4 separate regions of the Homo sapiens genome follow, and regions 2, 3 and 4 are each linked to region 1. Evidence: fine-mapped expression QTL. A gene starts in region 1. Each other region holds a variant in brackets. All regions are shown on one strand. Distances are from middle to middle. Region 1 holds the start of CD320 (CD320 molecule). Region 2 holds the start of KANK3 (KN motif and ankyrin repeat domains 3). Region 3 overlaps ANGPTL4 (angiopoietin like 4). Region 4 has its middle 24 kb from the start of CD320.

What was found.
Region 2: its variant is fine-mapped to the expression of CD320 in whole blood (TOPMed, PIP above 0.99).
Region 3: its variant is fine-mapped to the expression of CD320 in whole blood (INTERVAL, PIP above 0.99).
Region 4: its variant is fine-mapped to the expression of CD320 in NK cells (Gilchrist 2021, PIP 0.94).

What each region holds. Positions count from the first base shown.
Region 1 is chr19:8,304,219-8,312,132 of GRCh38, reverse strand. It overlaps CD320 (CD320 molecule), which reads left to right and starts at 3,775. Exons shown (of 5, transcript NM_016579.4): 1 at 3,775-3,984; 2 at 6,977-7,102. The coding sequence starts at 3,843. NDUFA7 (NADH:ubiquinone oxidoreductase subunit A7) reads left to right here. Exons shown (of 4, transcript NM_005001.5): 4 at 538-849. The coding sequence ends at 628. RefSeq lists enhancers at 1-192, 2,947-3,476, 3,532-4,271, 4,156-4,285, 4,272-5,012 and 1 more and silencers at 3,673-4,011, 3,986-4,075.
Region 2 is chr19:8,338,199-8,346,112 of GRCh38, reverse strand. It overlaps KANK3 (KN motif and ankyrin repeat domains 3), which reads left to right and starts at 2,851. Exons shown (of 11, transcript NM_198471.3): 1 at 2,851-2,888. RefSeq lists enhancers at 2,617-3,408, 5,343-5,843. The variant C/G (reference allele first, on the strand shown) is at 3,527.
Region 3 is chr19:8,366,109-8,374,022 of GRCh38, reverse strand. It overlaps ANGPTL4 (angiopoietin like 4), which reads right to left. Exons shown (of 7, transcript NM_139314.3): 3 at 7,704-7,821; 4 at 4,691-4,804; 5 at 2,872-2,967; 6 at 2,501-2,782; 7 at 1-318. The coding sequence ends at 137. Among named protein-coding and RNA genes, the nearest start is that of ANGPTL4, 5.9 kb to the right of the region's middle. The variant A/T (reference allele first, on the strand shown) is at 3,958.
Region 4 is chr19:8,280,714-8,288,627 of GRCh38, reverse strand. No RefSeq gene overlaps it. Among named protein-coding and RNA genes, the nearest start is that of CD320, 24 kb to the left of the region's middle. The variant C/T (reference allele first, on the strand shown) is at 3,982.

The DNA of each region.
Region 1 (7,914 bases):
ATGCGTTTTGCAGTTGCCATTTGCGCATGGATTCTCAGCCCCACCAGCCTGAGTCTTCCTGAGGGCGGTGCCCCATCTTCCTGGCTCTGCGCCCACACAGTAGCGCCTGCCATGCAGTTCTTGCCCAGTCTGAGGCAGGAATAGCTGGAGGCCATTGTCACCTGATCGCTTGGCCCTTTTGCCAGCATCCTGTTTTGAGGGGCAGCAGGAATGGGGGTGGGGGCCTTGTGTACGCTGGAGACCAAAAGTGGGAAGGGAGGAGCCCAGCTCTCCACAGTGGGTTCTGGGCCTGGGGGCCACAGCAGGGGGTTCATACAGGGCTCAGGGGAGAGAGGAGGCTTGCTAGCTCCCACCTGGCGTTGGCTGATCCTCTGAGGGGCTGCGTTGGAGGGGTTGGCATTCTGGAACACCCTGCTGTCTGTCCTGCAGGTCCAGAAAGTCCCTGTGGGTGTGTTTGTCCCGGGGCAGGTGTGGGCTCCCTCAGATCTTTCCACACTGTTCTTTGGAAACCCTCACTGAAGTCTTTCCCTCCTCCAGCTCTGCTGTAGCTGCCACTGAGAAGAAGGCGGTGACTCCAGCTCCTCCCATAAAGAGGTGGGAGCTGTCCTCGGACCAGCCTTACCTGTGACACTGCACCCTCACGGCCACCCGACTACTTTGCCTCCTTGGATTTCCTCCAGGGAGAATGTGACCTAATTTATGACAAATACGTAGAGCTCAGGTATCACTTCTAGTTTTACTTTAAAAAATAAAAAAATAGAGACAGAGTCTCACCATGTTTCCCAGGCTGATCTTGAACTCCTGGCCTCAAGCGATCCTCCTGCCTTGACCTCCCAAAGTGCTGGGATTACAGGCATGAGCCACCACACCTGGCCTGATTTTATTTTTATTTTTTAGACCTTCCCACTGAGGCCTCTGCTTGACCTTGGTCACCCTGTAGCTCAACGGGGAAGGCAAAGGACAGTGAGGGCTGCTTACAGGGAAGGCAGACCTAGGGCAGATCAGGAAAGGCCTCCCTGAGCCAGAAACCATTATGCTGGGGCTGTGGGATGAGAATGAGTTAGCTCCAGAAGGAAGGCAGCTGGTTCCTGGGGAGGAGATAGAAATCTGGCTGCAGGAGCCAGAGTTTTCGCGCTTGTCACCCAGGCTGGAACGCAACGGCACGATCTCAGGTCACTGCAACCTCTGCCTCCTGGGCTCAAGCAATTCTGCCTCAGCCTCCCGAGTAGCTGGGACTACGGGTGTGCACCACCATACCCGCTAATTTTTTTTTTTTTTTGTAGAGATGGCCAGGCTGGTCTCAAATTCCTGACCTCAGGTGATCCGCCCGCCTTGGCCTCCCAAAGTGTTGGGATTACAGGTGTGAGCCACCACGCCTGGCCCCTGATTTTAAGCAATACCCAGCTTACTTGGATTTTGGGGTGAAGTCAGTGCTGAGTCTCCCAACTCTGTTGGCACTCCAGGGGTGGGACAGACACTGTCCCTGGGTGCAGAGGCCCTGGAGACAGCACTGCCCTTTCCCCCAAAGGCCAGGCTCTGACCTTGAGAGTGGTGGGAGTGGGTGATCCTTCTGGGAGGTTGGACTCCCAGGACCGCTGGCTGTTGGGGAGCATTGATTGTGAAGACCAGTCAGGTGGGGTAAGGGGTGTATGTGCGGACACTCAGTAGGCCAGCCACAGACTTCTCACTTCTTTTTTTTTTTTGAGACAGAGTTTCGCTCTTGTTGCCCAGGCTAGAGTACAATGGCGCGATCACGGCTCACTATAACCTCTGCCTCCTGGGTTCAAGTGATTCTCTTGCCTCAGCCTCCCGAGTAGCTGGGATTACAGGCGCCTGCCACAAGCCCAGCTAATTTTTGTATTTTTAGTAGAGACGGGGTTTCGCCATGTTGGCCAGGCTGGTCTCAAACTCCTGACCTCAAGTGATCCGCCCACCTCTGCCTCCCGAAGTGTTGGGATTACAGGCGTGAGCCACCGCGCCTGGCCTAACTTCCATCTCTTGAGGGCTCCCACAGCCACTTCTCACATGAACCTTCCTCAGCACCTTCCCACTGAGGCTCCTGCTTGACCATGGTCACCCTGCAGCTCAACGGGGAAGGCAGAGGACAGTAAGGGCTGCTCACAGGGAAGGCAAACCTAGGGCAGATCAGGAAAGGCCTCCCTGAGCCAGATCCCATTATGCTGGGGCTGTGGGATAAGAATGAATTCGCCCCAGAAGGAAGGCAGCTGGTTCCTGGGGAGGAGACAGAAATCTGCAAAGGGAGGGTGTCCAAGTCTGGCTGCAGGAGCCACCCAGTGACCCTACGCAGGGGAGTGTCATGGCTTCCCCAGGGCACAGCCCCAGACCCTTCAGCAGCTAAAAAAGATCAGCTGTGGACCAAGAGGGTGCTGAGACCGCCCTGCCCTCTGGAAGGGGAAAGGCCACGGCTACAGGCAGCAGGTACCAGTGTCCCAGAGTGGGTCCTACAAAGGCTAACACCTTCCTGGAGAAGGTGGGATTCTGCTTGGGGCAAAAGGATGAATCAGATTCAGAAAGGTCAGGAGGGAAGGAAAGACTAGGCAGGGTGTGCAGAGGCCACAAGGAGGGCAAGACCCTAGGCAAGGCATGCCGCTGACGGCATCTGAACCAAGTTTTATGACCACAACTTTTTTTTTTTTTTGAGACAGAGTCTCACTCTGTCACCCAGGCTGGAGTTCAATGATGTGGTCTCGGCGCACTGCAACCTCCGCCTCCCGGGTTCAAGCGATTCTCCCATCTCAGCCTCCCTAGTAGCTGGGACTACAGGAGCATGTTACCACACCCGGCTAATTTTTGTATTTTTGGTAGAGACGGGAGTTTTACTATGTTGGCCAGGCTGGTTTAGAACTCCTGACCTCGTGATCCGCCTGCCTCGGCCTCCCAAAGTGCTGGGGTTAACAGGCGTGAGCCAGCGCGCCGGCCAACTTTTCTAACAAATGGGGTCTCACTGTCACCCACGCTGGAGTGCAGCCCCAAGTGATTCTCCCACCTCAGCCTCCTGAGTAGCTGGGACTACAAATTAGAGCCACCATGCCCAGCTAATTTTCTTTTTTCTTGAGGCGGGCGGGGACTTGCTGTGTTGCCCAGGCTGATCTCGAACTCCTGGGCTCAAGCGATCTGCCCGCCTCTGCTTCCCAAAATGCTGGGATCACACACGTGACCCACCGCGCCCGGCCTTTATTATTAAATTTAATTAATTAATTGATTTCCTTTCCTTTTTCCCCCCCAAGCAACCCGACTCCGAGAATGGACGTTTCATTTATTCATTTACTCACCAAATGTTTACTAAGAGCCTACTATGAGTCAAGCACTATGTGTCAGATCCTGAGAATAAAGCAGTGAGCAACAGAAGATCCCTGCCCTCCAGTAGCTAGCATTCTATGGGGACTCGGACAACAAACCAGAATAAGTAAATAAAATAAATTACCTGTCGGCGCCACAAAAGCAGTGGGATGAGGGAGGAAATGCGGAGTGCCTGAGGGGCGTGGCTGCCATATTAAAGAAGATCACGAGGCAGTAACATTTGCAGCAGTCCTCATTTGGAACGGGAAATAATGCAAATGAACACCAACAAATTCCTTCCCATCCCCAGAAGTTTCTAACTTCAAGCGGGCTCCATACCTTTCAACTGATCTGGTCACTGGGGAAAGTGGGGACGGGCCTCTAATTCTCTTTTCCCTGCTATTCTGACATTTACGGTACGCGTAGCCGCGGGCGCCGCAGAACTCAGGGGCTTGGGCCCCGCCCCAACCCCGCGCGTGCGCGTGCGCAGGGATAAGAGAGCGGTCTGGACAGCGCGTGGCCGGCGCCGCTGTGGGGACAGCATGAGCGGCGGTTGGATGGCGCAGGTTGGAGCGTGGCGAACAGGGGCTCTGGGCCTGGCGCTGCTGCTGCTGCTCGGCCTCGGACTAGGCCTGGAGGCCGCCGCGAGCCCGCTTTCCACCCCGACCTCTGCCCAGGCCGCAGGTGAGTGACGCCCCGCAGCGCGGGCTCCCACCCCTCGCGAGGCTTCGCCCCGCCGCCGCGCACCGACAACGCCTAGTCACTGGCTGCACCGCACGTCAGTTCATGACACTCCCCCAGCACGTGGACTTGGACTTCATCGCTTGTGGGAAGGCGCGCACTGGTGCTAGGAAGACCCCATGCTGGGGGAGGGGAGGAGGGTGTCTCCACCTGCCTTTAACGGTTTTGCTCCGGCCCTGCACACCGTCTCCACACCTGCTGTGCCCTGTCGTCCCCCATTGTCACCTCCAAGCCGCCCTTCATACCAGCGTGGTCAGGAAAGCTCTTAGCAGGCTCAGATTGTCCGACCGCTAATCACGCAGGACGGGTCACCTGGTGCCTCTCGCACCTTTGCCTTCCAAACCCTCGCGCCCAGGCCTTGTGACCGTTCCGCAACCGTCCCTGCCCTCCCAGTCTCTCCTCCTTTGTCCTCCATCCTTAGAGAACGCGAGGTCTCTCCCCCCCATGCTACTGCAGGCTCTCGCAGAGACTGGGGTCACAAGTTGAATATACCCCCGTGGACGTGTTCGCCCTGGCCTAAGAGGTATTGGTGGCCAGTGGGGACGGGCTCCCTCTCTGATACCCCTAGAGGCAGCTGGAGGGTTGGAGTGGCCTCCCTGTGCACTCAGGCACTCCCAACTTGCAGCCCTGGGCTCAGGCTCACACACTTTCCCAGCTCCTTTGTGCATTCCGCACTTCTAGGTCCCTGGACTCATCCCAAAGTCCCTGACATTCACGTTAAATGTTCCTGGGTTTTTTTTTGTTTGTTTTTTTTTAAGGAGGCAGCGTTCACGTTAACCAAGTACAAAAGTTTTTGTTTTTTTTTTTTTGAGTCTCCCTCTGTCGCCCTGGCTGGAGTGCAGTGCAATGTTGGCTCACTGCACCCTCCGCCTCCCGGGTTTAAGCAATTCTCATGCCTCAGCCTCCCGAGTAGCTTGGGACTACAGGCACCGTCACCATGCCCGGCTAATTTTTGTATTTTTAGTAGAGATGGGGTTTCACCATGTTGGCCAGACTGGTCTCGAACTCCTGACCTCAAGTGTTCTGTCCGCCTCAGCCTCCCAAAGTGCTGGGATTACAGGACAAAACTCTATACACAGTCTCTTTTTTCTCAGGATGTTGAGGTAGGGATTCCCAGCATACCCCGTTTACAGGTGAGGAAACTGAGGCCAGGAGAGAAAGTCACTGGTCACTGTAACTCCTGTCAGGCTTACACCCTATGAGGCGGGGACTGCTGTGCTCTACTGTCCACTTTGCAGAGGGATACACACTCCCGCAGTCCAGCGAAGGGAGGTCAGAGGTGTCAGGGCTGTGGAAGTCTGCGCCTGGGTGGAGAGCCACACCTGGAGGCTGCCAGATCTCCCGGGGGCGGGGAAGGAAGCAGGCACCGGTTTGTCCACAGCTCTTCTGGGATCCATAGAGCTCAGGGACCCTGTGGCAAGTAGGTGCAATTAGGCCTGAAGGCCGAGGAGGGGCTGGCAGTGGGGAGTGGGGGGTTGGAGGCTCATGGCTGGTGGGTAAAGGTGGAAGAGGTTAAAGGCCTTGGCAGAGTGAAGCTAAGCCAGGGTGGCGGATTTGCCACCTCCCCTGGCCGCACCCAGGAGGAAGCCGTAAAGGCCACTCCCTTCCTCTGTCCCTTGGCCCAGGTTGCGGGCCCCTCCGTGCCCCTCCAGGTCGGCAAGCAGCTGAGCTTCCCTGCTCAGAATCTAGGACAGCCGGGATCTTCTCTGGACCCAGCTTGGACCCTTATGTGACCTGTGTCCACTTATAATCAGGCACTGCCCTGGGTTTAGGCGGCCAGGTCACAGCCCTGACCTCCACAGAATGTCCAGTCTGTGGGTGGACAGGCATGACCAGGGCTTTAAGGACAGTTGTTAGACATGGGAGGCAGTGCTTCCTAGGTCTCCAAGAGGGACATGAGAACCCTCCCAGGAAATCAGCTGAGATCTGAAAATTGAGGGGAAAACACAGGGTGTAGGGAGGAGAGAGGGAAAGGCAAGTCTCTGGTGTCCTAATGGACCTTGGGGCCTGGGGCCTGGGGCTCTGGTGAGGAGCTGACACATTTAGGATGGGGAGAGTGATAGGTCTGGGAGGAATTCAGGAGGCGGGGCAACAGGACTTGGTGACTGAGCAGATTTTCTACCCAGTGCCTCAGTTTCCCACCCACTGCCTCAGTTTCCCTTTTGCTACGCAGAGGAGATAGACCCTCCCTGCTGACCTGAGCCCGGGAGCCTGACCCAGGGCATGTGGAAAAATGGCCCGTCCCTCAGTCTCTTTAACCACTGAGTTTGGAGGTCTCCCTGGCAGATCATCTCGCTATGAGGAGCCTGGTGAAGACTCTGGGATCAGCGAGACCTGAGTTCGAAGCCCAACTCCGCTACCAGCTCTTTTTTTTTTCTTTTTTGTGGTGACGGAGTCTCGTTCTGTCGCCCAGGCTGGAGTGCAGCAGTATGATTTCGGTTCATTGCAACCTCCATCTCCCAGGTTTAAGCGATTCTCATGCTTCAGCCTCCCGAGTAGCTGGCATTACAGGCGTGCACTACCACGCCCGGCTAATTTTTGTATTTTTAACAGAGACGGGGTTTCCATGTAGGCCAGGCTGGTCTCGAACTCGTGACCTCAAGTGATCCACCTGCCTCGGCCTGCCAAAGTGCTGAGATTACAGGCGTGAGCCACTGCACCCAGCCTCTGCCACCAGCTGTATGGCCTCCTCTTGGTTCCTTTCTCTGTAACCTGGGGAGTGCAGTAGCACCTGCCCAGTGGGGCTCTTGAGCCCAGGAACTGCTACACTCTGAACCCCACTCGTACTAGGGGCTCAGTAACAAGCAGCCGCCAGTGTGGTTCCTATATCCCGGGACTTCGCCTGTCTCCTGCGGATCACAGCCAGTGACTACTGTGCTCTTGGAGAAAGGTCCAGCCTCCAGCTTCCCAGGCTTCATTTGCATCCATCTCGCAGGCCCCAGCTCAGGCTCGTGCCCACCCACCAAGTTCCAGTGCCGCACCAGTGGCTTATGCGTGCCCCTCACCTGGCGCTGCGACAGGGACTTGGACTGCAGCGATGGCAGCGATGAGGAGGAGTGCAGTGAGTGGCCACGCCCCTTGGCGGGGCTTACAGGGGGCGGGGCCTGAGGGTGGTTTGTCAGGGGCCAGGCACGCGGAGGTGGAGCTTGTGGGAAAGGCAGGGCCGCAGGGATGGGTGCGACTTGGGTCTGTGGGTCATAAGAAGCGGGGTCTAAGATGGGCTTGGGCTGGGCGCAGTGGCTCACGCCTGCAATCCCAGCACTTTGGGAGGCTAGGGTGGGAGGATCGATCACTTGATCCTGGGAGGTTGCCGCTGCAGTGAGCTAGGATTGTGCCAGTGCACTCCAGCCTGGGCAACAGAGTAAGACTGTCTCAGGAAAAAAAAAGAAAAAGAAAAAAAAAAGAAAAATGAAAGAAAGGAAAGAAAGGAAGGAAAGAGAGAGGGAGGGAGCCAGGTACGGTGGCTCACACATGTAATCCCAGCACTTTGGGAGGCCAAGGCAGGCGGATCACTTGAGGTCAGGCGTTCGAGACCAGCCTGGCCAACACAGTGAAACCCCATCTCTACTAAAAATACAAAAGTTAGCTGGATGTGGCGGCAGGCCCCTGTAATCCCAGCTAGTCAGGAGGCTAAGGCAGGAGAATCACTTGACCCTGGGAGGCAGAGGTTTCAGTGAGTCGAGATTGCGCCACTGCACTGCAGCCTGGGCAGCAAAGGGAGACCCCGTCTCAAAAGAAAAAATAAAGAAAGAAACAAACAAACAAATAGAATAAAGTGGGCTTGTAGGAAGGTAGAGCTAGTGGGGTCTCAGGGGAAGAGCTTGCAGGGAGGCCTGTCCTTAGAAAGTGGAGTTAACAGTTGCAGGGGGCGGA
Region 2 (7,914 bases), 34 kb before region 1:
CTGGCCTCCCAAAGTGCTGGGATTACAGGCGTGAGCCACCGCACCCGGCCACAATAAAAATATTTTAGGGCTGGGTGCGGTGGCTCACGCCTGTAATCCCAGCACTTTGGGAGGCTGAGGCAGGCAGATCACGAGGTCAGGAGATCAAGACCATCCTGGCTAACACGGTGAAACCCCGTCTCTACTAAAAATACAAAAACAGCCAGGTGTGGTGGTGGGTGCCTATAGTCCCAGCTATTCGGGAGGCTGAGACAGGAGAATGGCATGAACCCGGGAGGCGGATCTTGCAGTGAGTGGAGATCACACCACTGTACTCCAGCCTGGGTGACAGAGCAAGACTCCGTCTCAAAAAAAAAAAAAAATTATATATATATATATATATATATATATATATATATACACACACACACACACACATATATTTTAAACATTCCAATGGAGGCCAAGTGCAGCGGCTCATGCCTGTTATGCCACTATTTAGGGAGGCTGAGGCAGGAGAATCACTTGAACCCAGGAATTTGCGACCAGCCTGGGCAACATAGAGAGACCCTGTCCTTACAAAAATAAGAAACCTGCTGGACGTGGTAGCACATGCCTGTAGTCCCAGCTACTCGGGAGGTTGAGGTGGGAGGATTGCTTGAGTCTGGGAGTTCAAGGCTGCAGTGAGCCATAGGTCTTGCCACAGAACTCCAGCATCGGCAACAGAGTAAACTTTGTCTCAAAGGAACAAAGAAGAAAATTCCAATGGAGTTTCTGTGGGGAAACGCGACAGAATTCCACAGTTTTAACTGAAAGAATCAACCAATTAAAATAGCCCAGGAATTTTGTTTTTTTTTAAAAAGTATCAGATGTTAAAATACATTTTAAAATATTACTATATTCTGGCCAGGTGCTGTGGCTTATGCCTGTGATCCCAGCACTTTGTGAGGCCAAGGCAGGTGGATTGCTTGAGCCAAGGAGTTGAAGACCAGCCTGGGCAAAGTAGTAAAAGCCCGTCTCTACTAAAAATAAAAAAAATTAGCTAGGCGTAGCACACACTTGTAATCCCAGCTACTTGGGAGGCTGAGGCAGGAGGATCTCTTTAACCTGGGAGGCGGAGTTTGTAGTGAGCTGAGATATTGTGCCACAGCACTCTACCCTGGGCAACAGAATGAGACCCTGACTCAAAAAAGAAAAAGAAAACATTATTTCAGCAAACATTTATTAAGCATCTACTGTGTACTAGGGTCGCTGGATAAAGCAGTTATCAAAACCAGTTTCCTGTTCCCATGGTGCTGACACTTAATTTAGAGACAGAGTCTCACTCTGTTGCCCAGGCTGGTCTTGAGCTGCTGGGCTCAAAAGATCCTCCCACCTCAGCCTCAGGAGGTGCTAGGATTACAGGCATGAGCCACCCCACCTGGCCTTGGTGCCGACACTTTAGTGAGATGGCAAGCAGGTAAACCAATAAATAACCAGCCAGGCATGGTGGCTCACGCCTGTAATCCCAGCACTTTGGGAGGCTGAGGTGGGCGGATCACCTGAGGTCAGGAGTTCGAGACCAGCCTGGGCAACATGGTGAAACCCTGTCTCTACTAAAAATACAAAAATTAGCTGGGCGTGGTGGTGTGCGCCTGTAATCCCAGCTACTTAGAAGGCTGAGGCAGGAGAATCGCTTGAACCCCAGGAGGCAGAGGTTGCAGTGAGCCAAGATCGCACCACTGCACTCCAGCCTGGGACAGAGCGAGACTCTGTCTAAAAAAAAATTAAATTAAATTAAAAAATAAACCAAATAAATAACTGAGTGTTTCGTTTTTGTCTTTTTGTTTTGTTGTTTTCTTTTGTTTTGAGAACTAGGTCTTGCTATGTTGCCCAGGCTGGTCTCAACTCCTGGCTCAAGCTATCCTCCCATCTATGCCTCCCTAAATACTGGATTTACAGGCGTGAGTCACTGCGCCTGCCAATAACAGAGTCTGCTTTTTTTTTTTTTTCCAGATAGTAAAAGTAGCTATTAGGTTAATACAATAGAGTGATGAGAAAAATACTAACTGGGGAGGGGCTATGTCAGGAATTTAGGGGGCAGCAACACAAAAGCTGAACCTCAGAAAGTAGGGAAGGCCGGGCGCGGTGGCTCACGCCTGTAATCCCAACACTTTGGGAGGCTGAGGCGGGCGGATCACTTGAGGTCAGGAGTTCCAGACCAGCCCGGCCAACATGGTGAAACCCCATCTCTACTAAAAATACAAATATTAGCTGGACGTGGTGGTGTGTGTCTGTAATCCCAGCTACTCGGGAGGCTGAGGCAGGAGAATTGCTTGAACCCAGGAGGCGGAGGTTGCAGTGAGTGTCACTGCACTCCAGCCTGGGACTCCGTCTCAAAAAACAAAAACAAAACAAAACAAAAAACAGTAGGGGAGCCTCAAAAAGTACCTACGTGTACAGGTGCAAGGGAAAGCATTTCAGGTAGGTGGAACAGCATGTGCAGAGGCCCTGCGGTGGGGAAGATCCGGGACCTGATACTTCACCCAGGCACTGCGAAATAAGTGCCAGTTATAGAAATCCCACCGGGTTACTCTTCTACTCATAGTTCTCCCATGGCTCCCTCGTGCCTGTGGATCAAATCCAAGCTCCTTGGCCCGGCGCTGGGCAGAGACTTGACCTCTGCTGGTGCAGAAATGCCGCCAGCCAGCGCTCGGCGACCGTCACTCCAGGGCCCGCCCTCAGTCACCACCCCTACATTCCAGGCCCCGCCTGCCTGTCCCACCCCACCGTCCCACTGGGCGGCTTGGAGAGCCTCGGGTGCTGGTTGGCTGGCGTGGCCGTCAGTTAGGGCGAAGGCCTTGATAATCAGTCCCCGGACTTCGAGGGGGCGGGCTCGGGTGCGGGCGCGGCTGGGGCTGCGGCTTCAGGTAAATTGCCAGCTTGCGGGGACACGGATGGGGGACCCCTGGGTGGGTGGATTCGGGGACGCACCGGGACCCGGCGCTGCGCTGCGTTTCCAGCCCCACTGAGGGCTCTGCCCGCTGCGACGGGGCGGGCGTCGTGTCCTCTGGCCGGGACCCCTCCCACATTGGAAGTCCCAGGTGGGTAGCGAGCAGAGTGGGGGGCTCTGGAGGCGTGGGCTTGCCCCCCTCTCGCCCTTCGGGAGCTCACTGCGGGGCTCGTTCGCTCCCTAATGCCACAACCGGCCCTGGGACCCTTTCCCGGGACGGCCTGGGGACCCCAGCCAGCCCCTCGCGCTGGGCTGGGTGTGGGAGCGTGTCACGGAAATGGTGTTTTGGGGAGGGACGCACGGCCCCCGGACCCGCAGACAATGGGTAGCGGATGGAACCGCCCGGCGGCGCTTCCTGTAGGAAACTGCTCTGTCTCTGTGCGGCTAGGACGACCTGGGGGTGGACGGGTGATGATGACTTTAACACCCACCTTCCTGCCGCCACCGGTCCCCCACCCACCCACCTCAAGAGTCTGAGAGTCCCAGCAGACATCAGGGGCTGCCAGTACTCAGGGCCTCCTGGAAGGCGCCCTCTCCCCAGGACTGGGATCCTCA[C/G]TGGCCTGCCGTGGCCCCCACCACTCCGGTTTGGTGATCACAGCTCTGCGTCCCAAAATAGTCCCTGGGGCGGGAGAGGGGGCGTGTGGCGTCGGCTCTGACGGCCTAATGAGGGGGTCTCAGGCACAGAATCCGGATCTAGCTGTGACAGTCAGGGCAGGGAGCGGAGGAGAGGGAAGGCAGCTAAACGCCCCACTTAGTGAGGCCCCAGCCCCTGAAGCCGCAGAGGTGGTGGGCACCTCCGCCCCCAATCAGAGTCTGACACAGGTGTAGGCTGGGAGGGACAAGCCCCCTGAGGCTCCTTGGTGGTTCATGCCTGTTATCCCAGCACTTTGGGAGGTCAAGTAGGGCTGATCTCTTGAGGTCAGGAGTTTGAGACCAGACTGACCAACATGATGAAACCCGTCTCTACTAAAAATTCAAAAATTAGCCAGCTGTGGTGGCAAGTGCCTGTAATCCCAGCTACTCAGGATGCTGAGGCAGGAGAGTCGCTTGAACCCTGGGCTCAGAGGTTGCAGTGAGCCGAGATCCTGCCACTGCACTCCAGCCTGGGTGACAGAGACTCCGTCTCAAAAATAAAAATAAAAGAAAGCATTCAAGTGTAGTGGCCAAAGCAAGGACTCTGGAAGACCTGCCTGGGTTTAAAACCTGCCTCTGCCTGTTTATGACAGGACCCAGGCAGGACACTAAACTGTTCTGTGTCTCAGTTTCTCCATCTGTACAATAGGGGAAGGGACAATGATCATAGGAAATCCAACCTCAGTGGATTTAGCTAGGATTTTAAAAAATAAGTCAAGGTCAGGTGCAGTAGCTCATGCTTGTAATCCCAGCACTCTGGGAGGCTGAACTGGGAAGATTGCTTGAGCCCAGGAGTTGGAGGCCAGCCTGGGCAATATAGCAAGACACCTGTATCTACAAAAAATAAAATTAGGCCGGGCACGGCTCACGCCTGGTTTGAGACCAGCCTGGCCAACATGGTGAAACTCCGTCTCTACTAAAAATACAAAAATTAGCCAGGCATGGTGGTGCACACCTGTAATCCCAGCTGCTTGGGAGGCTGAGGCAGGAGAATCACTTGAACCCGGGAGGCGGAGATTGCAGTGAGCTGAGATTGTGCCACTGCACTCCAGCCTGGGCGACAGAGCATGACTCCATCTAAAACAAAAAACCAAAAAATTTAAAATATTAGCCTGAATTAGCCAGGTGTAGAGGTCCATTCCTGTAGTCTCAGCTATTTGTGAGGCTGAGGCGGATCACTTGAGCTCAGGGGTTCAAGGCCACAGTGAGCTATGATCGAGCCACTGACTCCAGCCTGGGTGACAGAGTGAGCGAGACATTGCCTCTAAAAAAAAAAAAAAAAAAAGTAAATATCCATAAATTCCTTAGACTAGAGGCTGGCCCATAGTAAATATCAAAAGCGTTGTTATTATTTGACATTCTGGAGGGATCCATTCCTTTCTTAGCCCAGCCTCTGGATCCAACTGCTTCAGCTAGTTTAGGTCTTAGGAATGGCCCACAGCTGTCTTCTGAGATCCCAGGGCCTGGGATTTGGGTGTGACCAGGTCACCGGAGGAGGACGCTGACCCCATTGCGTCATACGGCCAGCTGTGTGAGAAGTAGACCCAGACCCCCCAACCCTTGATCTGGACTTTTTCCACAACCCAGTTCTTCCCTGGCAATTTCCTGAAAACAAGTGATGAACGGCATTGGCTGTCCTCTGCGATGACCCGCTGGCCTGTTGATCCACCCCTTGCAGCTGGTGTGAAGGGACGGGAAACAGCTGCTTGGGGACTGGAAGAGGCCCCCTGCCTGGCCTTGGAGTGGGAAGGGAGAGGTCAGGGACCTCGGCCAGACAGAAGTGGGAAATGGAGTTACGGTTTCCCCAGCGGTGGAGTAGGGTAATGAGTCAGGAGGGCTGGTGGGTGCTCAGTGCTTCATAGCATCAGGCACACAGGTGGTCCCAGGGATTCGAGAAGCCAGAAGGGGTGGCTGGGAGTGTTGCCATGTGGTTAGCACAGACGGGCCGTGGCCCAGGGAGAGGATGAAGTGGGTTTGGCAGATGCCTGTCAGTGGAGGACTGGACAGGTAAAGGGCAGTCAGAAGCTGTGGCAGGGACCTGCTGACAAGGGTTCCGCAGATGGGCAGAGCCCAATCTGAGGGTGCTTCCCACAGGCAACTGATTTAATTGTTCTGTGCCTCAGTTTCTCCATCTGTAAAATATGAATAATAATACTACTTTGCAGTATGCAAAGTGTTGTATGGGGGCTGTGTGTGTGTGTGTGTGTGTGTGTGTGTATATATATATATATATGGTTTTTTTTTTTTGAGACGGAGTCTGGCTCTGTCCCCCAGGCTGGAGTGCAGTGGCATGATCTCAGCTCACTGCAACCTCTGCCTCCCAGGTTCAAGCGATTCTCCTGCCTCAGCCTCCTGAGTAGCTGGGACTACAGGCATGCACCATTGTGTCCAGCTATGGCGATGACATTTAATCAGGAAGGGCACACCGTAGGCACTTTCCCCTCCCTGAAGGTTTTCCATGTGGGCTTTCCAAAGCCCATCTTTCCCACTCCATGTTCCTGTGCTTTTCTTTTCTTTTCTTTTCTTTTTTTTTTTTTTTTTTTTTGAGACAAGGTCTTGCTCTGTCAACCAGGCTGGAATGCAGTGGCATGATCATAACTCACTGCAGCCTGCATCTCCTGGACTCAAGAGATACTCCTGCCTCAGCTTCTTGAGTAGCTGGGACTACAGGTGCATGCCAACACATCCAGCTAATTTTTGTGTTTTTTGTAGAGATGGGGTTTCGCTATTTTATTTATTTATTTAGAGACAGAGCTTCGCTCTTGTTGCCCAGGCTGGAGAGCAATGGCTTGTGAGCCACTGTGCTTGGTGGTTTCACTATTTAAAAACAAACAAACAAAAGAGATAGTGGCCAGGCACCTTGGCTCATGCCTGTAATCCCAGCACTTTGGGATGCCGAGGTGGGTGGATCACCTGAGGTCAGGAGTTCGAGACCAGCCTGGCCAACATGATGAAACCCTATCTCTACTAAAAATACAAAAAATTAGCCAGGTATAGTAGCAGTGGCTGTAATCCCAGCTACTCAGGAGGCTGAGGCAGGAGAATCACTTGAACCCAGGAGGCAGAGGTTGCAGTGAGCCAAGATTGTGCCACTGCACTCTAGCCTGGGCAACAAGAGGGAAATTCTGTCTCAAAAAAAAAAAAAAACAAAAAGAGATAGGGTCTCGCTATGTTGCGCAGGTGGGTCTTGACTCCTAGGCTCAAGCGATCCTTCTGCTTTGGCTTCCCAGAGTGCTGAGATTTCACCCTGTGCTTTTTGAACCAAAGTTCTGGATTCAATATTTGTCCTTGTTAAATATCACATTATTATATGTGGCCCAATCTTCCTCACTTTCTTACAGCCTCCATCATGTCATCCAAACAGTCACTTTCCCAGGCAGCCCCATGAATAGTCACAGCTCTGACAACCCAGGTGTTTTGTGTTTGCATTACAAACTCTTACAAGCCAAGGATCAAGCCTGTGACACTCCGCTAGCGACATTCCAGGGAGACAAGTATCCGTTGATTTGTTGATTTGGATCTTTGGTGCATCCAGCCCGCAATTCCCCATCATTCCTGCAAGAGTTTCACAACTGACCTTGGTAAAAATTTGGATGCACAATTACATCCTTTTTTTTTTTTTTTTTTTTTTTTTTGAGACGGAATCTCGCTCTGTTGCCAGGCTGAAGTGCAGTGGCGCCACCTCAGCTCACTGCAAGCTCCGCCTCCCGGGTTCACGCCATTCTCCTGCCTCAGCCTCCCGAGTAGCTGGGACTACAGGCGCCTGCCACCACGCCCGGCTACTTTTTTATATTTTTAGTAGAGATGGGGTTTCACCGTGTTAACCAGGATGGTCTCGATCTCCTGACCTCATGATCCGCCCTCCTCGGCCTCCCAAAGTGCTGGGATTACAGGCGTGAGCCACCGCGCCCAGCCTAGATGAGTTTTTAATGATCCTGTGAAGGGCTTCCAACTCTGGTCTTTCTTTCCTAAAGGCTCATAGTCCACTACATAGAGCGTCCATTTCTGATTTTCCCCAGAGATTATCAGAAAACCCAGCAGGTCTGGAATGCCTCCCCAACTCCCAGCTACCCTTGTTTTCTTGGTCACCTTCTTCTTTTTGCTTGATGTCTTTCCTGCTTCCTCCTGCCCAGCAGGCTGACATCTGACACCTGGGGATCATTCATTCCATCCAAAGTTTCAAGGTCGGCTAGGCACGGTGGCTCATGCCTATAATCCCAGTACTTTGGGAGGTCGAGGCAGGCGGATAACTTGAGGTCAGGAGTTCGAGACCAGCCTGGCCAACATGGTGAAACCTCATCTCTACCAAA
Region 3 (7,914 bases), 62 kb before region 1:
TGGTCTTCTTCTCTGTCCACAAGTTTCCAGATGGCCCCTCCTTGGAGCCCCTGCCCAGGCAGGGAACGGCCACATCCTCGGGCAGAGCCAAGAGTCACCGTCTTTCGTGGGCCTGGGACCAGGCCCAGCCAGGACGCTAGGAGGCTGCCTCTGCTGCCATGGGCTGGATCAACATGGTGGTGGCCTGCAGCGGGTAGTAGCGGCCCCGCCAGGTCTTCCAGAAGATTCCCTTCTTAAGCTTCTGCCGCTGCTGTGGGATGGAGCGGAAGTACTGGCCGTTGAGGTTGGAATGGCTGCAGGTGCCAAACCACCAGCCTCCTGCCGGGGTCAGGGGAGAGGGAACATGGTCAGGTCTTTGAGCCACCGATGGGGCTGAAAGGAGATAGGGATAGGGTTGAGGATGAGGCAGGTTGGGGACCAGGCTGGGCTTTGGACTTGACTTTTTTTTTTTTGAGATTGAGTCTTACTCTGTCACCCAGGCTGGAGTGCAGTGGTGCGATCTCAGCTCACTGCAACCTCCGTCTCTCAGGTTTAAGTGATTCTCCTCCCTCAGCCTCCCGAGTAGCTGGGATTACAGGCGCCTGCCACCACACCTGGCTAATTTTTGGTCTTTTTTTTTGAGACTGAGTCTCACTCTATCTCCCAGGCTGGAGTGCAGTGGCACAATCTCGGCTCACTGCACCTCTGCCTCCCAGGTTCAAGGGATTCTCATGCCTCAGCCTCCTGAGTAGCCGGGATTACAGGCACCCGCCACCACGCCTGGCTAGTTTTTGTATTTTTAGTAGTGAGGGGGTTTCACCATGTTGGCCAGGTTGGTCTCAAACTCCTTACCTCATGTGATCCACCCTCCTCAGCCTCCCAAAGTGCTGGGATTACAGGTATGACCCACTGCGCCTGGCCTAATTTTTGTATTTTTAGTAGAGACAGGGTTTCACCATGTTGGCCAGGCTAGTTTTGAACTCCTGACCTCAGGTGATCCACCCACCTCGGCCTCCCAAAGTGCTGGGATTACAGGTGTGAGCCCCCACACCCGGCCTTATTTTTAAGTTTAAAAACAATTTTTTTTGAGACAGGGCCTGGCTCCATTGCCCAGGCTGGAGTGCAGTGGTGTGGTGATGGCTCAATGCAGCGTCAACCTTACGGGCTCAAGTGATTCTTGTACCTGGGCCTCCCAAGTAGCTGGGACCACAGGTGTGAGCCACCATGCCTGCATTTTTTCTTTTTCTTTTGAGGCAGGGGTCTCACTCTGTCACCCAGGCTTGAGTGCAGTGGCGCAGTCTCAGCTCACTGCAGCCTTATCTCCTAGGCTCAAGAGATCCTCCCAACTCAGCCTCCCAAGTAGATGGGAACACAGGCAGGCACCACCATGCCCAGCTAGTTTTTTGTATTTTTAATTGAGACAGGATTTCGCCCTGTTGCTCAGATTGGTCTCCTGGGCTCAAGTGATCCACTCGCTTCAGCCTCCCAAAGTGCTGGGATTGCAAGTGTGAGCCACCGTGCCTAATTTTTTTTTTTTTTTGAGAATTGCTTGAACCCGGGAGGTGGAGGTTGCAGTGAGCCGAGATCGCACCACTGCACTCCAGCTTAGGCAACAGAGTGAGACCCTGTTTCAAAAAAAAAAAAAAAAAAAGAATCCTGTGGAGCACCATTATAAAGATGTTTGTGGCCGGGTATTGTGGCTCACGCCTGTAATCCCAACACTTTGGGAGGCCGAGGTGGGCAGATCACTTGAGGTCAGGAGTTCAAGACCACCCTGGCCAACATGGTGAAACCCCGTCTCTACTAAAAATACAAAACAATTATCTGTGCATGGTGGCGGGAACCTGTAATCCCAGCTACTCAGGAGGCTGAGGCAGGAGAATCACTTGAACCCAGGAGGCGGAGGCTGCAGTGAGCCAAGATCACGTCACTTGCACTCCAGCCTGGGAGACACAGCGGGACTCTGTCTCAAAAAATAAATAAGTAGGCCGGGCGCGGTGGCTCACGCCTGTAATCCCAGCACTTTGGGAGGCTGAGGCAGGCAGATCACGAGGTCAGGAGATCGAGACCATCCTGGCTAACACGGTGAAACCCCATCTCTACTAAAAATACAAAAAAATTAGCCAGGCGTGGTGGTGGGCACCTATAGTCCCAGCTACTCGGGAGGCTGAGGCAGGAGAATGGTGTGAACTCAGGAGGTGGAGCTTGCAGTGAGCCAAGATCGTGCCACAAAGCACTCCAGCCTGGGTGACAAAGTGAGACTCCGTCTCAAAAAATAAATACATAAATAAATAAATAAACAAACACATAAGTAAATAAAAGTAAAGACGGTCAAGACCCTTTTCAGGATGGGAAAACTGAGGCCAGATAGGCTAAGTTAGTGGCCCAATCACACACACGGCATGTAAGGAAGAGGTGGGGGCAGGAAACAGATGCAATGTGGGGTTGAAGGCAGGACAGAGCAGCAGAAAGATAAGGAGGGAAGCTGCTGGCTGGGTGTGGCATGGCAGGGCCTGCTCACCAGAGAGGCTCTTGGCGCAGTTCTTGTCCCTGCGGAGGTCGTGATCCTGGTCCCAAGTGGAGAAGGGTACGGAGAGGCCGCTGGGTGGGACGGTGGTGGCGCCCAGCTGGCCGGCCACGGGTGCAGTGAGCTGCAGGCTATAGGCCGTGTCCTCGCCACCCAGGTGCACGGAGAACTGCAGCAACTCGGCGTTGCCATCCCAGTCCCGCAGCTGCACGGCCAGGCGGCTGTTGCGGTCCCCCGTGATGCTATGCACCTTCTCCAGACCCAGCCAGAACTCGCCTGGAGTGGGAGAGGCCACTCCATGAGGCAGGGCCACTTCTGAGGGTCCCTCTTCCTCCCCTGCCTCTGTCCCCACTAGAAACACCTACCGTGGGGATCCCCAAACCCCGCCTTGTAGGCTTCCCAGGGCCGGTTGAAGTCCACTGAGCCATCGTGGCGCCTCTGAATTACTGTCCAGCCTCCATCTGCCCAGAAAGGTACAAGGTCACCAGGAAGTCCCTCTTCACAGACGACCCCACTCCCTCATCTGGCTGCCAAGCACCAAACCCCCTCCAAACCCAGGAAGACAGCAGCTCCCTCACTCATCCCTGGAGGACTCGAGGAGGGTGGGTCAGAGGGAGGAATATTATGGGCTGGCCTTGGGAAGATCTTTGTCCCAAGAACCCAGCAGGGACTGAGTGTGGGAGGGAGTAGGCAGTGGAAATCTGCAAAGCCTCTCTGGGCCAGCTGAACTGGGTAAAACCCCGTGTTGTAACCTCTTGTAATGGAAAGGACTTCTCAGTGGAAAAAAAAGCTTTCTTTTTTTTTTTTTTTTTTTTTAGAGATGGAGTCTCACTCTGTTGCCCAGGCTGGATCGCAGTGCCGCAATCTCAGCTCACTGCAACCTCTGCCTTCGGGGCTCAAGCGATTCTTGTGCTTCAGCCCCACAAGCAGCTGGAATCACAGGCACGCCCGGCTAATGTTTATGTTGGTAGAGATAGGGTTTCACCATGTTGGCCAGGCTGGTCTTGAACTTCTGACCTCAAGTGATTTGCCCGCCTCAGCCTCCCAAAGTGCTGGCATTTCAGGTGTAAGCCACCGTGCTCAGCCTTTGTTTTTTTTTAGAAACGAGGTTTTGTTGTGTTGCCCAGGTTGGAGTGCGGTGGCTATTCACAGGTGTGATCACGGCTCACGGCAGCCTTTAACTCCTGGGCTGAAGTGACCCTCCTGCCTTGGCCTCCCGAGTAGCTGGGACTACAGGCATGTGCCACCATGCCCAGCAAGGGCTGAATTTTATTTTATTTTATTTTATTTTCTCTTTTTTATTTTTTTGATGGGGGGACGGAGTCTCGCTCTGTCGCCCAGGCTGGAGTGCGGTGGCGTCATCTCAGCTCACTGCAACCTCTGCCTCCCAGGTTCAAGAGATTCTCCTGCCTCAGCCACCTGAGTAGCTGGGATTACAGGTGCACACCACC[A/T]TGCCCGGCTAATTTTTGTATTTTTAGTAGAGACGGGGTTTCACCATGTTGGTCAGGCTGGTCTCGAACTCCTGACCTCGTGATCTGTCTGCCTCAACCTCCCAAAGTGCTGGGATTACAGGTGTGAGCCACTGCACTTGGCCTTTTTTTTTACTTTTACAAAATTTTTTGTAAAGATGAGCTCTCACTATGTTGTCCAGGCTGGTCTCGAACTTCTGGGCTCAAGTGATCCTCATGATAGGCCTCCCAAAGTGTCGGGATTACAGATATGAGCCACTACACCCAGACAAGGGCTGCATTTTAAAGAAAAGAGGCCAGGAGCAGTGGCTAATGCCTATAATCCCAGCATTTTGGGAGGCCAAAGTCGGCAAATCATTTGAGGTCAGGAGTTTGAGACCAGCCAGACCAACATGGTGAAACCCAGTCTCTACTAAAAATACAAAAATTAGCTGGGTGTGGTTGCTCGCACCTGTAGTCTCAGCTACTGGGGAGGCTGACGCTGGAGAATTGCTTGAACCCGGGAGGCGGAGGTTTCAGTGAGCTGAGATCGTGGCATTGCACTCCAGCTCCAAGAGCAAAACTCCATCTCAAAAAAAAAAAAAAAAAAAAAGACCAGCTTGGGCAACATAGCAAGACCCTGCCTTTAATTTTTTTGTTTTGTTTTGTTTTCAATTTAAAGAAAGACAACAGGGCCTATGGGGAGAGGGGCCCCTGGTGGACTAACACACCCTACCTGAGGTCATCTTGCAGTTCACCAAAAATGGCGGAGACCCCTGAGGCTGGATTTCAAATAGTCCACTCTGCCTCTCCCCAACCTGGAACAGCTCCTGGCAATCCCTGGGCAGCCCTGAAGGGAGATAAAGTGGAGACTTGAAACAGGAGGGCAGCCCCTGGGGGGGGTCTCAGGAGCCAGGCATATCTGGGGGCTTAACAGTGGATGACCAGGGAAGTAAAAGGCAAATCTTATCTCATGACCACCTCTCTGCCATCTGCCTAACCTCTTCCATGGCTCCCTATGTCCTTCCTCAGCATGGTCCACAAGGCACCTGGAGGACCAGCCCCCGTGCCCATCCTCCTCCTGCCATGCTGTACCCACACCCTCTCTGGCACACAGGCTTTCTTCCCACCCTTGTACCACACACCGTCCTGCCACAGGGACTTTGCACATGCTGTTCCCCCTGCCTGGGACTCTCTTTTTTTGTTTTGTTTTTTGATACGGAGTCTCGCTCTGTCGCCAGGCTGGAGTGCAGTGGCGCAATCTTGGCTCACTGCAACCTCCGCCTCCCAGGTTCAAGCAATTCTGCCGCAGCCTCCGGAGCAGCTGGGACTACAGGCATGTGCCACCACGCCCGACTAGTTTTTGCATTATTTGTAGAGACGGGGGTTTCACCATGTTGGCCAGACTGGTCTCGATCTCCTGACCTCGTGATCCGCCAGCCTTGGCCTCCCAAAGTGCTGGGATTACAGGTGTGAACCACTGCGCCCGGCGGGACTCTCTTTCCTCACTTCTCTCTCTGGGTCCCAGCTTCTGGAAGGACACCCTGCCTTGCCTCACCCCCAGACCAGGCCAGAACACCCCAAATGGGAATTGAGCAAGGACTTCCCACTCCTGGACACTGAGGTCATCTAATGGTCTCTCCTCTGACTCAATGGAGGCTCCATGAGGCTGGGGACAAGGAGCAGCTCTGCCCACAGCCTGGCACCAGCATCCACGCAGGCCCCAGCGCATAGCAGCTGCTCAATAAAGACTTGAGGAATGGGCCGGGCGCAGTGGTTCATGCCTGTAATCCAGCACTTTGGGAGGCGGGCGGATCGGTCAGGAGTTTGAGACCAGCCTGGTCAACATGGCCAAACCCCATCTCTAGTAAAACATACAAAGATTAGCTGGGTGTGATGGTGGACGCCAGTAATCCCAGCTCCTTAGGAGGCAGAGGCAGGAGAATCACTTGAACCCGGGAGGCAGAGGTTGCAGTCAGCTGAGGTTGAACCATTGCACTCCAACCTGGGTGACAGAGTGAGACTCTGTCTCAAAAAAAAAAAAGACTTGATAAATGAATAAAAATTAGCTGGGCGTGGTGGCGGTAGGCGCCTATAATCCCATCTACTTGAGAGGCTGAGGCAGGAGAATCACTTGAACCCAGTGGGAGGCAGAGGTTGCAGTGAGCTGAGATTGCGCCACTGCACTCCAGCCTGGACAACAGAGCGAGACTCCGTCTCAAAAAGCAAACAAAACAGTCTTGACAAATGAATGAATGAATGAATGAATGAGGCAGCAGGTCCAGAACGGGAAGAACTGTGCTGAGCAGGAGCATCTCAGAGGCTCTGCCTGGGGTCCCAGCTCCTAGAGGGAGAGGAGGCAGGGTTGAGGAAAGAAAGAGGGAGGGAGGAGGGGAGGATGGCGTTGAGCACGTCTGGAGGCTCAGACGCTCCAGACTGGGAGGAACCGCCCCCAGCCCAGCCGGAAAAGTAGGGGAAAGGTCGAAATGAGTCTGCACGGTGGGGGTGGGGGCGGGCCCAGAGTGACCAGGAAGACGCTTTCCGGCCCCTCAGGCATCTCCCCTTTCCCCTACTTTCCTCCCATCCAGTAAGGATGGGCACGCGGCCAAACCACCAGTGTGGCTTCCATGAATGCCAGCTGTTCGCCTTCCCAGCTCTGAACTTTCTCCTACTTGGCGGGCCTGAGCCAAGAGTCTGGGAGTCCCGAACCCACAGAACCCCTGCCCCCTTCCACCGCATTTCCCAGCCAGGACTTGTGCCTTCCCCCGTCACCCTCCAGAAGCCCCTCATCCTGGGATGGTGGCTTTGGGAGGGTGGACAGGACCCTGACCACGCTGAGATGCTAGCCTGGCGGGGTTGGGGGCGGGCAGCACGGAGGTGGGAAGGAGCGGGAGCTTGGGGAGGAGAGAACCCTCAGGTCTACAGTGCTGGAAGCCTGCCACTGACCCTAGGGTGTGAGAGGGGGATCCAAACTTTCACCCAGTTGGCTGTGGACAGCCACAGATGCAGGGAAGGATGAGGACCACAGAGAAACCGTGTGGGGCCGTGAACTTAGAGAACCGCGAGTCTGCATCGGACACACGTGGACATGCTGTGGTTCGAGATGAACGGAGATTTGGGAATAAAGCACCTACAACTTGTGGTGGCAGCAAAAGCCCACTTTCTGCGGTGGGGAGGGGGCCGGCGGGGGCGGGGAGGGAGGAGGAGAACAAGAGAGGAAGGAGGAAGAGGGGTCAGGGACCTGGAGCATTGGATTTGTAAGATACAAGAGTGTTTCTGGTCTGGGAGCTGGGGGTTCCCAGCCCTAATTCCCACATACCCCAAGACATTGTGGAGGGCCCAAATCTACAAACACTACTACCTGGCACCCCCTCCTCCATGACACCCTCCCCTAGAAGGTTCTAACCTTCAGGATGGCACCCCGAACCCCATTTCTACCTTCTCCAGCACCCCTGCAGCTCAAGTCCCTCAAGACCTCTTTCTCCACCTCTGTTCCAATCAGTGATCAGCAGGGCTTCAGGGACAGCCCACTGGCTTGCAGAGGAGAAGGGTTGGGTGGCCTGGCTGGGCCAGGTCAGGGCTGAGGAAGGAGGTGCTCCCATCAGCTTTGACCCAGAGACTGGTGAGCCCTCAGGGACTCCAGGCCAGGACATCTTCTCCTTAAGGTGGACCTGACAAGGAGAGGACCAGCAATGGCAAGTGGCGGGGTAGGGGTGGCCACCGGAGAGCATCGAGGGGCAGACACTCACGGTGCAGGCGGCTGACATTGTGAGCCGGGTCAACTGGCTGGGCCATCTCGGGCAGCCTCTTTCTTCGGGCAGGCTTGGCCACCTCATGGTCTAGGTGCTTGTGGTCCAGGAGGCCAAACTAGGATGGGACGGGAGGAGGGTGTCAGGTCCTGCCTGGCCCCACGTCCCCAGCCACACGTCCAGTTCTCACCACCTCCCTCTCAACCTGGGG
Region 4 (7,914 bases), 24 kb after region 1:
AGCGGGTGTTGCAGTGAGCCGAGATCGCCCATTGCACTCCGGCTTAGGAGACAGAGTAAGACTCTGTCTCGGGCGGGGTGGCGGGGGAAACAGGGAATAACAGTAGGGGAAGTTCCTAGTAATGCATGTTTTTCCAAGTCCCAGAAAGAACATAGCGGCAGATGGCAAGTTGCCCCTAGGTGGTGGTCGTTCCCCATGTCCAACACCCAGTCAGCCTCGGGCTAATCCAGGGTCACTGACCATGTGCTTATCTGGCAGTTCTCCCTGGTTTTCATGCATTTTACTTTTGCTTTAACCTTTTCTGTTTCCGATCGAGTGACCATCATTTTTTTTCTACTGTTAAATATACATATCAATACATAATAGAAAAAAATACAAAAAGTACGTAAGTATTATACCTAAAAATAACATAAAATTGACCACTTTAACAATTTTAAGGTGGGCTTCAAAGGTATTCAGTATTTTTACAATGTTGTGCACTCATCACCACCACCCATCTCTAGAACTGTTGTTTGTTTTTGTTCTTGTTTTTTGTTTTTGAGACAGAGTCTCGCTCTGTTGCCTAGGCTGGAGTGCAGTGGTGCTGTGATCTCAGCTCACTGCAACTTCTGCCTCCTGGGTTAGAGTGATTCTCCTGCCTTAGCCTCCCGAGTAGCTGGCATTACAGGCACGTGCCACCACGCCCAGCTAATTTTTTGTATCTTTAGTAGAGATGGGGTTTTCACTATGTTTGCTAGGCTGGTCTTGAACTCCTGACCTTGTGATCCACCTGCCTCAGACTCTCAAAGTGCTGGGGTTACAGGCGTCAGCCACCATTCCTGGCCAAGAAATCTTTTTTGTTTGTGAGATGGGGTCTCATTATGTTGCCCAGGCTGGTCTCAAGCTCCTAGCCTCAAGTCATCCACCTGCCTTGGCCTCCCAAAGGGCTGGGATGATAGAATTTAGCCACAGTGCCTGGCTTCCTCTTTTTTTTTTTTTTTTTTTTTTTTTTTTTTTTTTTTTTTGAGATGGAGTCGTGCTCGGTCATCCAACCTGGAGTGCTGGAGTGCAGTGGTGTGATCTTGGCTCACTGCAACCTCCACCTCCCAGGTTCAAGCAATTCTTCTGTCTCAGCCTCCTGTAGCTGGGACAACAGGTGCATGCTACCATGCCTGGCTAATTTTTGTATTTTTAGTAGAGATTCGAGATGGGGTTTCACCATATTGGTTAGGCTGGTCTGGAACTCCTGACCTCAGGTGATCGACTGGCCTTGGCCTCTCAAGTGCTGGGATTACAGGCATGAGCCATTGTGCCCGGCCACATCTGTTTTTATCAAAGTGAAATTCATATAACATAAAATTAACCATTGTGAAGTGAATGATTCAGTGGCATTTGGTACATTCACAGTGCAGTGCAACCATATCTATCTACTGCCAGAATATTTTCATGACCCCAAAAGGAAGCCCTGTACTCATTTTGGTGACTCACACATGTAATCCTAGTGCTTGGGAGGCCGAGGTGGGAGGATGGTTTGAGGCTAGGAGATTCAGATCATCCTGGACAACATAGCAAGGCCTAATCTCTACCAAAAATAAAAAAATTAGCTGGGTGTGGTTGTGTGCACCTGTCATCCTAGCTACTGGGAAGCCTGAGGCAGGAGGATTGCTTGAGCCCAAGTGTTGGAAGCTGCAGTGATCTGTGATCACACCACTGCATTCCAGCCTGGGCAACAGAGCAAAACCCTGTCTCTAAAATAAAAAATTTAAAAATAAAAGAAATTGGATATTCTCCCCCTTTCCCTCTTTTTTTTCCCTCCCCCCCAGCCTGGCCAATATGGTGAAACCCTGTCTCTACCAAAAATACAAAAAATTGGTTGGGTGTGGTGGCAGGCGTCTGTAATCCCAGCTACTCGGGAGGCTGAGACAGGAGAATCGCTTGAACCTGGGAGGTGGAAATTGCAGTGAGCTGAGATCACGCCATTGTACTGCAGCCTGGGTGACAGAGTGAGACTCTGTCTCAAAAAAGAAAAAAAAGGTTTTATTATTTATCCTGGGCATCATAGGGATCTCTGCAAATTTTTTTTTTTTTTTTTTTTTTGAGACAGAGTTTCGTTCTTGTTGCTGGGATTACAGGCATGTGCCACCCCACCTGGCTAATTTTGTATTTTTAGTAGATAAGGGGTTTCTCCATGTTGGTCAGGCTGGTCTTGAACTCCCGACCTCAGGTGATCCGCCCGCCTCGGCCTCCTAAAGTGCTGGGATTACAGGCGTGAACCACTGTGCCTGGCCTATACATTTTTTTTTAACTAGCTGTGGGTGGTGGTGTGCACTTGTAGTCTCAGCTACTTGGGAGGCTGAAGTAGGAGGATTGCTTGAGCCTGGGAGGTCCAGGCTGCAGTGAGCCGTGATCAGGCCACTGCATTCCAGCCTGCGTGTCACAGCAAGACTGTCTCAAAAAACAAACAAAAACAAGTAATGTACTTGAATCATCCTGAAACCATCCCCACCCCTGGTCCGTGGAAAAATTGTCTTCCATGAAACCAGTCCCTGCTGCCAAAAAGGTTGGTGACCGGTAAAGTTAATTCACACCCTGACTTCTGGGTGACAGGGCAAAGTTCCTCCCTTATCCTCAGCTTCTAAATCTCTGAATGGGATGTTGGGGGCCACAGTAGCCTCCTTGCAGGGGAGTGACCTCCCTGGGACCGTTAGAGATGGACTCAGATGGACCTGTTGCCCAGGTTGGAGTGCAGTAGTGTGATCACAGCTCACTGCAGCCTTGAACTGGGATCAAGAGATCTGCCTGGGCTGGGCACGGTGGCTCATGCCTGTAATCCCAGCACTTTGGGAGGCCAAGGTGGGCGGATCACCTGAGGTGAGGAGTTCGAGACCAGCCTGGCCAACATGGTGAAACCACATCTCTACTAAAAATAGAAATATTAGCCGGGTGTGGTGGCAGGCGCCTGTAATCCCAGCTACTTGGGAGGCTGAGGCAAGAGAATTGCTTGAACCTGGGAGGCAGAGGTTGCAGAGAGCCAAGATCCTGCCATTGCACTCCAGCCTGGGTGACAAGAGCAAGACTCCATCTCAAAAAAAAGAAAAATCCTCCTGCCTCAGTCTCCCGAGTTTTGGGATTACAGTCACATGTATCACACCCAGCTAATTTTTTATTTTTGTAAAGTCAGGGTTGGTCTATGTTGCCCAGGCTGGCCTCCAACACCTGATCTCAAGGAATTCTCCCACCTCGGCCCCCCACAGCGTTGGGATTACAGGTGTGAGCCACTGCATCCAGCCAGGTTTTTTCTCTAACGTTTTCTCTGTCACGAGTCAGCCTCGACGGACAACAGGGTATGTCAGGGATATGTGTGCCCGGCTGTGAGGCTGGTGTGGGTGCCACATGCCACCTAAGTGGACCTCTAGGCTCTGGACCGTCCTGACTGTCATGCATTCTTGTTCTCAGTGGAGCAAACCGCCCCATGCCCACTGGCTCCAAACACCTGTTGTCGCATCCTCTCTCCTGGCTCTGGGCTGACCAGGCTCACTGGGGGTTCATTTGTTCCATGTGACAGTGGCTGCCATCATCTGGGGGCCGGGCTGGCTGGATGTCCCATCCAGAAGGTCTGTCATGTCTGGGATAGCTGACCTCTCCATGTGGCCTCTCCACGTGGACTCCTGAGCAAGGTGGCCACACTCCTGCCACGGTGACTTGGGGTTCCCCAACACACAAAGCAGAGAGACTGCTGGGTCAATGTTGCCGATGCTGTATTCTGTGGATTCAGTGGAGTCCAGGTCAGCCCAGATCCTGTGTGTGTGTGTGTGTGTGTGTGTGTGTGTGTGTGTGTGTGTGAGTGGGGGGAACACATAAGGGCCTGAACACCCTTTTGAGACTATCTCAAAAACATTATTTATTTATTTATTTATTTATTTATTTATTTTTGAGACGGAGCCTTGCTCTGTCTACCTGGCTGGAGTGCAGTGGTGCAATCTCGGCTCACTGCAACCTCTG[C/T]CTCCCGGGTTCAAGCGATTCTCCCGTCTCAGCCTCCTGAGTACCTGGGACTACAGGCCTGCACTAACACATCAGGCGAATTTGTTTTCTATTTGTAGTAGACACGGGGTTTCACCATGTTGGCCAGACTGGTCTCGAACTCCTGACCTCAGGCAATCCGCTCACCTCGGCCTTCCAAAGTACTGGGATTACAGGCGTGAGCCACAGTGCCTGGCCAAAAAAAACTTTTTTTATTTTTCTTTTTTTAAAGTCTCCCTCCTCCCCCTCGCCTTTTTTTTTTTTTTTTTTTTTTTTTTTTTTTTTTTTTTGGTGGAGTTTCCCTCTTGTTGCCCAGGCTGGAGTGCAATGGCTCCATCTCGGCAAACTTTGCCTCCTGGGTTCAAGTGATTCTCCTGCCTCAGCCTCCCGAGTAGCTGGGATTATAGGCATGTGCCATCATGCCTGGCTAATTTTTTGTATTTTTAGTAGAGACGGGGCTTCTCCATGTTGGTCAGGCTGGTCTCAAACTCCCGACCTCAGGTGATTTGCCTGCCTTGGCCTCCCAAAGTGCAGGGGTTACAGGCGTGAGACACCACGCCCGCCCCCCTCCCCTCTGCCTTTTTTTTTTTTTTTTTTTTTTTTTTAGAGATGAGGTCTTTCTACGTTGCCCAGGCTGGTCTCTTAACTCCTCAGCTCAAGTGATCCTCCCACCCTAGCCTCCCAAAGCACTGGGATCACAGGTGTGAGCCATGGTGTCCGCTGTTACCCACTCTTAAGGGGATTGTTTGAGACTAATGAGTCCTTTCTCTGCGGGTTGCCATTTGCACCAACAGAACAAGACCAGGTTCAGTAAAGCAAGATAGAAACTTTATTCGTCAATCAATGAATGGAGAAAGGGAGGAACTCCTGCTCAAAGTGCCTACTCCCTGCAGGTGTGATGAGGGGAGTTTTAAAGTTTCCTAGGGCATGTAGATGCAGACTGGGGGTGGGGATTCCTGGAAAGAGGTGGGGCTTTCTAGGGGGCACTGAAGTGTTCAGCCTTTCTTTTCTTTTGTACCTGGCATTATATGTGCTTAGCAAAGTGCACCTCTCCCCACTGAAGACTTTTTTTTTTTGGTTTTTCTTTTTTTGAGACAGAGTCTCGATCAGTCACCCAGGCTGGAGTGCAGTGGGGCGATCTCAGCTCACTGCCACCTCCGCCTCCCAGGTTCAAGCAATTCTCCTGCCTTAGCCTCCTGAGTAGCTGGGATTATAGGTGTGACCCATATAATCCCAGCTTTTTTTTTTTTTTTTTTTTGAAACAGCACCTCACTCTGTTGCTCAGGCTGAAGTACAGTGGTGCGATCGTAGCTCACTGCAGCCTCGACCTTCTGAGCTCAAGCAATCCTCCTGCCTCAGCTTCCCAAGTAGGTGGGACTACAGGCATGCATCACCACGCCCGGCTAATTTTTACATTATTTTTTGTAGAGAGAGGGTCTTTTTTTTTTTTTTCTGAGACTGAGTCTCGCTGTGTCGCTCAGGCTGGAGTGCAGTGGCACAATCTCAGCTCACTGCAACTTCTGACTCTCGGGTTCAAGCAATTCTCCTGCCTCAGCCTCCTGAGTAGTAACAGGCGCGTGCCACCACACCCGGCTAATTTTTTTTTTTTTTGTATTTTTAGTAGAGACAGGGTTTCACCATGTTGGCCAGGGTGGTCTCAAACTCCTGACCTCGTGATCTGCCCACCTTGGCCTCCTGAAGTGCTGGGATTACAGGCCAAGAGAGGGTCTTACCATGTTGCCCAGGGTGGTCTTGAACTCTCTGACTTAAGCAATCCTCCCTCCTCACACTCCCAAAATGCTGGGATGACAGCTTGGAGCCATTGTGCCCTGGCTGTGGAGATTTTACTCTGCCCATGGAGTGAGGATTCAGGCAGATGGAGCACTGCTGAGGTCAGCTCTCATCTTGTGGCTCAGTTGTGGTTAATGGCATCCGGCCTTCATGCCTGTAAACTAGCACAGCTGTGAGCAGGGGTTAATTTCTTTTTTTTTGAGACAGAGTGTCGCCCTGTTGCCCAGGCTGGAGTGCAATGGTGTGATCTCGGCTCACTGCAACCTCTGCCTCCCAGGTTCAAGCATTTCTCCTGCCTCAGCCTCCTAAATAGCTAGGATTACAGGCACACACCACCATGCCTGGCTACTTTTTTGTATCTTTAGTAGACACCAGGTTTCACCATGTTGGCCAGGCTGGTCTCGATGTCCTGACCTCGTGATCCACCCGCCTCAGCCTCCCAAAGTGCTGGGATTACAGGTGTGAGCCACCATGCCCGGCCAGAGCAGAGATTAATTTCACAGGTTCTGGGGCTCCCTAAAAGAATGGATGTTATAGTCCGGGTGTGGTGGCTTACGCCTGTAATCTCAGCACTTTGGGAGGCTGAGGTGTGGGTGATCACTTGAAGTCAGGAGTTTGAGACCAGCCGCCTTTCTCACCCTCCCAAAGTGCTTGGATGACAGCTGGGAGCCAGTGCACCCTGGCTGTGGAGATTTTATTATGCCAGTGGAGTGAGGAATCAGGCCTATGGAGCACTGCTGAGGTCAGCTCTCATCTTGTGGCTCATTTGTGGTTATTGGCACTTGGCCTTTGTTCCTGTAAGCTAGCACAGCTGTGAGCAGCGGTTAATTTCTTTTTTTTTTTTTTTGAGACAGAGTCTTGCTCTGCCACCAGGCTGGAGTACAGTGGCGCGATCTCGGCTCACTGCAACCTCCGCCTCCCGGGTTCAAGTCATTTTCCTGCCTCAGCCTCCCAAGTAGCTGGGATTACAGGCGCTCACCACCACGCCCAGCTAATTTTTGTATTTTTAGTAGAGACAGAGTTTCACTATGTTGGCCAGGCTAGTCTCGAACTCTTGACCTCAGGTGATCCACCCACCTTGGCCTCCCAAAGTGCTGGGATTACAGGCGTGAGCCACCATGCCAGGCCGGATACAGGGTCTTTAAAGGGGTGATTAAGGCCAGGTGTGGTGGCTCACACTTGTCATCCCAGAACTTCAGGAGGCTGAGGTGGGTGGATTGCACAAGGCCAGCAGTTTGAAACCAGCCTGGGCAACATAGGGAGAGCCTGCCTCTACTAAAAATACAAAAAATTAGCTCGGTGTGGTGGTGCACACTTGAATCCCAGCTACTCAGGAGGCTGAGGCACGAGAAATACTTGAGAACAGGAGGCAGAGGTTGTAGTGAGCCAAAGATCCCACCACTGCACTCCAGCCTGGGCAAAAGAGTGAGAGTCTGTTTCAAAAAAAAAAAAAAAAAAAGCCTAAGTGTGGTGGCTCACGCCTGTAATCCCAGCACTTTGGGAGGCTGAGGCAGGTGGATCACCTGAGGTCGGGAGTTCAAGACCAGCTTGACCAACATAGTGAAACCCGTCTCTACTAAAAATACAAAATTAGGTGGGCATGGTGACACATGCCTGTAATCCCAGCTACTTGGGAGGCTGAGGCAGGAGACTTGCTTGAATCTGAGAGGCGGAGGTTGCAGTGAGCCGAGATTGTACCATTGCACTCCAGCCTGGGCAACAAGAGGGAAACTCCGTCTCAAAAAGAAGAAAAGAAAAAAAATTTTTTTAATTAGCAGGACTTGGTGGTGTGCACCCGTGGTCCCAGCTACTCAGGAGGCTGAGGTGGGAAGATTGCTTGATTCCAGGAGGCTGCACTGAGCTGTTAGCGCCACTACACTCCAGCCTGGGAGACAAAGCAAGGCCCTGTCTCAAAAAAAAAAGAAGCTGCTGAGAGGTGACAGCGTGCTGGCAGCCCTCGCTTGCTCTCGGTGCCTCCTGGGCCTCCGCGTCCACTCTGGCCGCGCTTGAGGAGCTCTTCAGCCCACCACCGCACTGTGGGAGTCCCTCTCTGGGCTGGCCGAGGCTGGAGCCAGCTCCTTCTGCTTGCTAAAGGTGTGGAGGGAGAGGCGCGGGCGGGAACCC